2 linked regions of the Homo sapiens genome follow. The protein of the gene in region 2 purifies or fractionates together with the protein of the main gene of each other region. This does not show direct contact. Each region holds a gene or a part of one and is shown on either strand. Other genes may lie near its edges.

Evidence for each region.
Region 1: the proteins of ALDH1A1 (region 2) and ZC3HC1 purify together in Homo sapiens (co-immunoprecipitation; one large-scale study listed by IntAct). This does not show direct contact.

Annotation. Positions count from the first base shown.
Region 1 is NC_000007.14:130,037,628-130,041,454, forward strand, and holds part of ZC3HC1 (zinc finger C3HC-type protein 1), read right to left. Parts: intron 3,475-3,827; coding exon 3,324-3,474; intron 1,921-3,323; coding exon 1,837-1,920; intron 1-1,836. UniProt on the Homo sapiens protein: Required for proper positioning of a substantial amount of TPR at the nuclear basket (NB) through interaction with TPR.
Region 2 is NC_000009.12:72,904,309-72,908,135, forward strand, and holds part of ALDH1A1 (aldehyde dehydrogenase 1A1), read right to left. Parts: intron 1,725-3,827; coding exon 1,650-1,724; intron 1-1,649. UniProt on the Homo sapiens protein: Cytosolic dehydrogenase that catalyzes the irreversible oxidation of a wide range of aldehydes to their corresponding carboxylic acid.

The sequences.
Region 1 (3,827 bases), on a different chromosome or scaffold from region 2:
TTAATAATCCCTTTTCTACCACCCTTTCATTGATCAAAGGTAGAGGGGAATCTCTGGTTATTTTCAATCTATTTTCTCCTTTTAGTGGTAAATCATGGAATATTCTTAGCCATCAGTGACCCTGGAATTAGCCTGCCATCCTACTGAAATAAAAAATATACCTACATGGCACTGATTCCTGGTCAAGGCATGAAATATACAGATGAATAGTGTTGCTTTTTAACTATGGGTCTAAAGAATTTTTTTATACTTGCTCTTAGATTCCCCACCAGAGGGCTCTGCTGTTGAAGCTGTTTACTCAGCAGGAATATGCCTATGTGATCAACAAAATATTTTTTATTTTTCATAGAGATGAGGTCTTACTATATTTATTGCTCAGGCTGGTCTCAAACTCCTAAACTCAAGCAATCCTCCTGTCTTGGCCTCCCAGTGTTAGGATTATGGTTGGGAGCAACTGTGCCTGGCCAAAGAACAAAATATTTTTAAAAACCCAGTTGAGATTACACTTTGGGCTCTCTTATTCCAAAGTGTTCTGTGCACACATCAGTAGTTCCTGATTCAAGGGAGAGTATGTCCTCTCATGGCCCTTATATAGACAGGAAATAGGAGGTTGGACCTGGCCTTCCCAGACAGGCAGCCTGTGGCTGTAATGACACCCTTACTTCAGTGCTGCTGTGATAGTGTACTGTTTTACTGCAATAAACTGCAGATTTGTGATCACTCTCACTTGGGGTCCTGTGAGTCTTCTTCAGCAAATGAACCCTGTTTAACTTCCACCATTATTGCTGTTAGTACTCCCTCTACAGGAAACCTAGGTAGAACATGGCATTGCTTGGTGTGGTGGGAAAAGCGGAGGGTTTGAAATCAGATTAAACTTAGTTATAGCTTCTCTCTAGTTGGTTTTAAGACCTCTGATTCTTAGTTTCCTCACCTAAATGAACTGGGTTATGGCCGGGCACAGTGGCTGATGCCTGTAATCCCAGCAGTTTGGGAGGCCAAGGCAGGCAGATCACTTGAGGTCAGGAGTTTGAGACCAGCCTAGCCAACATGGTGAAACCCCATCTCTACAAAAAATTTTAAAAATTAGCAGGGTGTGGCAGCGTGTACCTGTAATCCCAGCTACTCGGGAGGCTGAGGCAGGAGAATCGCTTGAACCTCGGAGGTGGAGGCTGCAGTGAGTTGAGATCGTGCCACCTCACTGCAGCCTGGGTGAAAGAGCGAGGCTCTGTCTCAAAAAAAAAAAAAAAAAAAACCAAAAGAACTGGGTTGGTAGTATCTACCTCCCAGGGCCCCTGTAAGGATTAAATGGGATAATGCATATATATGTCTAAAGCCTTAAGCATGTCAAATGCACTTCATGAAGGTAAGTAATAACACAAGTGAATATAAGTTTTTCTGGAAATAATGCAAATAGAAAAGGAGAAAAAGAGGCCGGGCACAGTGGATCACCCCTGTAATCCCAATCCCAGCACTTTGGGAGGCCGAGACGGGCGGATCATCTGAGGTCAAGAGTTCGAGACCAGATTGACCAACATGGTGAAACCCCATCTCTACTAAAAATACAAAATTAGCTGGGCGTGGTGGCGCACGCCTGTAATCCTAGCAACTCTGGAGGCTGAGGCAGGAGAATTGCTTGAACGCGGGAGGCGAAGGTTGCAGTGAGCCAAGATCGCGCCACTGTACTCCAGCCTGGGCAACAAGAGTGAAACTCCATCTCAAAAAAAAAAAAGAAAAGGAGAAAAAGAAAGTTCAAAGACTAGGTTTTCACAAACAGACAATATTAGAAATGCAATGATGAAGGAAAAATGGTGAACAGGAATTCTCAAAAATAAGTACCTGGGGATGGGCTGTCTGGCCAGAAACAGAACTTCTCATGGGCAGTACACAAGGCTTTCTTCAGCTCAGCACATCGTTGCTTATCTGAAATCCACATAAACAGCAACACCTTAAAAAACACTATATAGATTCAAAATCCAATGAATGGCCTCTAAGAGCAGAGATTTAACTAAAAATAAGAGAATTTTAAAATGTGAAAATATTATCAAGTACATAATCTTAATATTTTTCACAAAACAGGTTTTAAATTGAGATCCTAAGATCAACAAAGGAGATACCATGTATCTTATTTTTATTTTTTATTTTTTTGAGACAGAGTCTTGCTCTGTCGCCCAGGCTTGAGTGTAGTGGTGCAATCTCGGCTCATTGCAACCTCCATCTCCCAGGCCCAAGCGATGCTCCTGCCTCAGCCACCTGAGTAGTGTTTTGTATTTTTAGTAGAAATGGGGTTTCACCATGTTAGTCAGGCTGGTCTCAAACTCCCAACCTCATGTGATCCACCCACTTCAGCCTCCCAAAATGCTGGGATTACACACGTGAGCCACTGCGCCCGGCCCCCATGTATCTTATAAAGCAGAGCATTCCAAAGTGTGAGACTTCATAAAAGTCCTTTGTCACTCTTCGTCTAGAAGTATACATTTTGGAATAATAAAGTAAACATGCTGCTGTTACCTAGATTACATTAAGTCAAGTCCATGCTGCAGTAGCTAGCTTAGTTTAAAAAAAAAAAAAAAAAAAAAAAAAAAAAAGGCCGGGCACGGTGGCTCACGCCTGTAATCCCAGCACTTTGGGAGGCTGAGGCGGGTGGATCACAAGGTCAGGAGATCAAGACCATCCTGGCTAACACGGTGAAACCCCGTCTCTACTAAAAATACAAAAAATTAGCCAGGCGTGGTAGCAGGCACCTGTAGTCCCAGCTACTTGGGAGGCTGAGGCAGGAGAATGGTGTGAACCCAGGAGGCGGAGCTTACAGTGAGCCAAGATCGCACCACTGCACTCCATCCAGCCTGGGGGACAGAGCGAGACTCCGTCTCAAAAAAAAAAAAAAAAAAAAAAGACTGGCCAGGCACTATGGCTTACCCCTGTAATCTCTGCACTTTAGGAGGCCAAGGTGGGCGGATCACTTGAGCTCAGGAGTTCAAGACTAGCCTGAGCAACCTGGTAAAACCCCACCTCTACAAAAAAAAAACAAAAATTAGCCAGGTGTAGTGGCACTGCGCCTGTAGTCCCAGCTACTTGGGAGGCTGAGGAAGGATCGCTTGAGCCCAGGAGGTTGAGGCTGTGGTGAGTTGTAATTGCACTATTACATCTTGCTCAGCCTGGGCAACAAGCAAGACCCCATCTCAAAAAAAAAAAAAAAGATTAAAAAAAAAGATTGAAGTACGCATTTTTTGATCAAACTAAAATGACCTTTTTTCCCCCCCCAGAAAACCAGGATAGTATATATTTGAGTGTGGAGAAAAATGTAATTTGTACCTTATACTTACATCTGTCAAAGTCAAAAGCTGGTTGTAAACTGGCACAGAGAAAAGCTTGACAGCTAGAGCACTTGAGCATATCACATTCCACTGTGACCCAGCCATATTTTGCACAGACGAGTGGAGACAGCTCAAAGGGCTTACCTGCCCATTTCAAAGAGTATCCATGTTAAGAAAAACAACACAGCAAATATATATATATATGTGTGTGTATGTGTGTGTGTGTGTGTGTGTGTATACACATACTGTTTTTTTTTTGTTTTTGAGAAAAGTTCTCACTCTGTCTCCCAGGCTGGAGTGCAGTGGCACGATCTAAGCTCACTACAACCTCACCCTCTCAGGTTCAAGCAATTCTCCCACCTCAGCCTCCCAAGTTGCTGGGACCACAGGTGCACGCCACCACACCCAGCTAATTTTTGTATTTTTTGGTAGAGATGGGGTTTCACCATGTTGCTCAGGCTGGTCTTGAACTCCTGAACTCAGATGATCTGCCCACCTTGGCCTCCCAAAGTG
Region 2 (3,827 bases):
CCACTAATAAAATCTAAGTCAAATTTCTTAAATGCAGGACTTCTTAATCTGTATCATATGTTACTCTGAAATCATATTTTTCATCCCCATAAATCCACACCAATCAACAAAATTCACTAGCCCCTCAACATACCACATGTAATGTTCCATGCAAGAAAGCCCTCTTCTCTACTAACTGATATCCTACACTTGCTTTCTGCCCTAGAGGAAGTTTCATCTCTTCTGTTAGGAGAAGTTTTCTTCTCTATAAACTGCCATTAAGTTTTCAACCACTGGATTTCCAGTGGGGTCAGAACTATAGAATCTTAAGCATGGAATAGAGGTTAAAAGATCTATTTTCTTCTTCCACTCTTATCCACACTCACAATCCTTGGCCTTGTCTGACAGATGAAAATAGTGATGGTTAGAGAGATGCCATCCTGACTCTTATACTCTGGTAGTGTCTAGGTTTTCTTCAATACTTTGCTCGGTACTTTAATTGCTTCTCTACCTCCATAGGATATGGAATCCCAGTGTATTACTACTTATTTCATAGTGTATGTAGGTTATTTTGCATGTCCTGCCACCACAGCTATGTAGAGCATGGAACATGGTGTCATGTCTCTGGGGTTCCTAGGACCTTACACATAGCAAGTGCTTAATAAATGAAAGCATATTGAGAAAGTAGACTGGTCATTTTATAATTCTCCCATTTCACTGACTCTTCAGAGATATTTGTTTCCTTGTAATTTTGCTGATTTGTTAGAGTACGGTACTCAACCATTTAATACATTTAGAGATTGAGAAAGGCACATTTTCACTTCCTAATTACAAAATGAGCAAGTTTACGATCTGTGTTTGATACTATAAGGTTTCTATTTCTTTTTTCTTCATAAATGTTTACATTAATACATGTAAAAAAGTTTTAAGAAATAAAATGACTAAACTTGCCTAAACAAAATCAACTAAGCATATTGCCACTACTTTCTGTATTTACATATATATGTGCATACTTAAAAAGTCTATATACCCTAGTTTCAAAAGCAATTGAAATTTCATAAATGCATTTATATATAAATATTCTTAATCTAGTCACTACTATAAAACATGTTTTCCTCAAATTTCCTTTTAGGTTTAAGTTTTAATACTAAAAATAACTTCTTATGGTAATAAAAAATGTTAAAGTCTACATCAATAATATCTCAACAAATGGGAATCATTCCTCTTACACTGAAATTTCCTTTACATAAGTCACCTAATTTACTTATTTAAATGGTTTATTCAAATAACTAGAGTGTTTACATTTGCACCTTTCTTGCAATCACCAATGCATAGTTTCCACCTCTTTTCTGGAAATGTTTCCCAAATGGATTACATTCATATATATAGCAAGCAATTCTAAAAGCAAGCAGTATTACAATCACCAATGTAAGTTGCTTAATATAGTCCCTAAAATATAGTAGGAATTTAGTAAATTATGTTGCTGTTCTGCAATCACCTTTTGCACTTATGGAGTACATCCCACATTTAATAAGCTATTTGGTGCTATGAATCTCCAGGAAAGAACAGAGGCAGGTTTTATGTAAGGTGAAAACTATGAGTTAATTCCCTGGGAATGAAAATCATTTTCATAAAAATAAATATTTATCTTAATAGAACGTTAATCTTACAGTTCTCTTCCATTTCCAGACATCTTGAATCCACCAAAGGGGCACTGGGCACTTACCACGCCATAGCAATTCACCCTGAAGGAAAAGAAAAGTGCATTATAGACAATACTTAAGGTGTGAAAAAAAAATCCTTTTTGGCAGTTTTAGAAATTTGGAAAGCTCCTTACAAACTCCATTAATTTCATTATAACATACTCATCTTGATAAAAAAAAGTAGCACTATAAATTAGAATGCAGACATATATGGATACACACTACCTAGAAACAAATAGAATAGTGCAACTATATATATGGATAGCCATTTTGGTCGTACATTGTGTCCCTGAGAAGTGGTAGTCTGAATTTATAAAAGATAGAATAGTCACTATGCTGTAGGGGGAAAGATATGGTTTGCTAGAAGCTAGAATTTGTTGGATCAGTATTCATTACTGCTTATATATGGATCAGCTTGTAATTCTCTTGATGTTTCTGTACTTAACAGGCTAGAATCAATTTTCTTTTGCAATTGTAATATGTATCATATTACTCAGTTAATTTTTTTTCCCATTAATTGGTTAAATAAATTGCTTAAACAGAGGCCTTGGCAGGAGTTGGGTTTAATTATAATTTATTCCCTGTCATATTTCATAAAGTGTTTAAAGATGCTTATATAAACAAACATAATTACATGAATAGTAGTAATTAGAATCCAACAAAAAATTACAATAGAAGATCTAGATGGGGAAAATTAGAATGCAGTTTTGCAGACCATAAACAATTTGTTTAGCTTTAAATTTGCTGGTGGCCAAAAGTTAGCAAAATCTAATTATTTACCTGATTCTCATTATACGCAAGAGAAAAACACTTTTTAAAGGAGATTTATGTTTATACTTTTCTCTCCCTTCATGCTATTTTAATAAGTGGACAAAAATGTGGCTTCCAGAGCCTGGGTTAGTAGCTGGAGACTGAGGCAGGAGGATCACTTGAGCCCAAGAGTTTGAGACCAGCCTGGGCAACATAGCAAACCCTTGCCTCTACAAAACAAATTTAGAAAACCAACCAAACAAACAAACAAAAAACCAGGGTGGCTTCCAGATAAATTGTATTATACTTTGAAGGTTTGGTCATTACTTTTATCCTGAGATAATATTCAGATGTTTTCTTTGTTAAAACACTATCCCAGTTCCCGAAGTTCCACATTCTCACTGGACCATAAAGTTCTTAACTATGTCTCTCATCCTGGAGGGATAATTCCTTTAATAAATTTACACTTACAAAAGGCAGTATTGTCTCAGCTTTGTTTAATTGCCCTTTAAATTGCAAAATCAAATACTACTTTGAAATTATGAGTAAACTTCCTGCAACTCTGGAGTTCAATAATTTTCCTGAAAACACCAAGCAGCTATTAGGTCTGGGACAATGCCAGAAAATTATTATCTTCTAGGATATGTAGTAACAAGATGGTCCCCTCTGTTTTTCATAATAGAGGAAATTCCTGATCAGGGATTCCCAAGACCCTCAGTGGGGTGATGTCATAACAAGCTTCATCAAACAAGCATGGAACATTCTGCTAGTCGAAAATACAAAACTGAAATTTGTCTTTGTTAAAAAGTGCAGAGAGTAAATTTGCTCATTTTACTGTCAACTAGAAATGAAACTATTTTACTGTGAATTAACAGGGAACTGAGAAATGTTCACTTGGCAAAAACTTTGAGTTCAAAATGTTATCTGTCTTCTGCAAGCGTTTCCTCATGTGTAAAGTGGGGATGATAATATTTAATAGGATTGTTTCAAGGTATGCGTAAGATTGCGTGAATAGTATTCTTGTTGTAGTACTTGGTATAAATATCTTCAGTAAGTGGCGATAATATACATACACACAGTAACTATGCTGAATTTTATTAATGCTTTTATCATAGGCAAATTCTATATTCATCACTAGCTATACCGACTATTCAAGAAGAACTTGCTGAATTTTATTTAAGAGTCTCCCATTAGGCCCACTTCCTATTGCTGTTACAATGGCATTTAAATTGCCACATGGGCTTTGGAGGAGAAATTTAAACTATACACTGATATAATTTGTGTTAATGTATACCCTCCCCTGCCCCAAATCAGTTTATACATTTTTAAAGCCCCCGAGATGATTCTAATGAACAGCCAGGGCTGAGAACCACAGCCTTAGAATATTGTATAGGT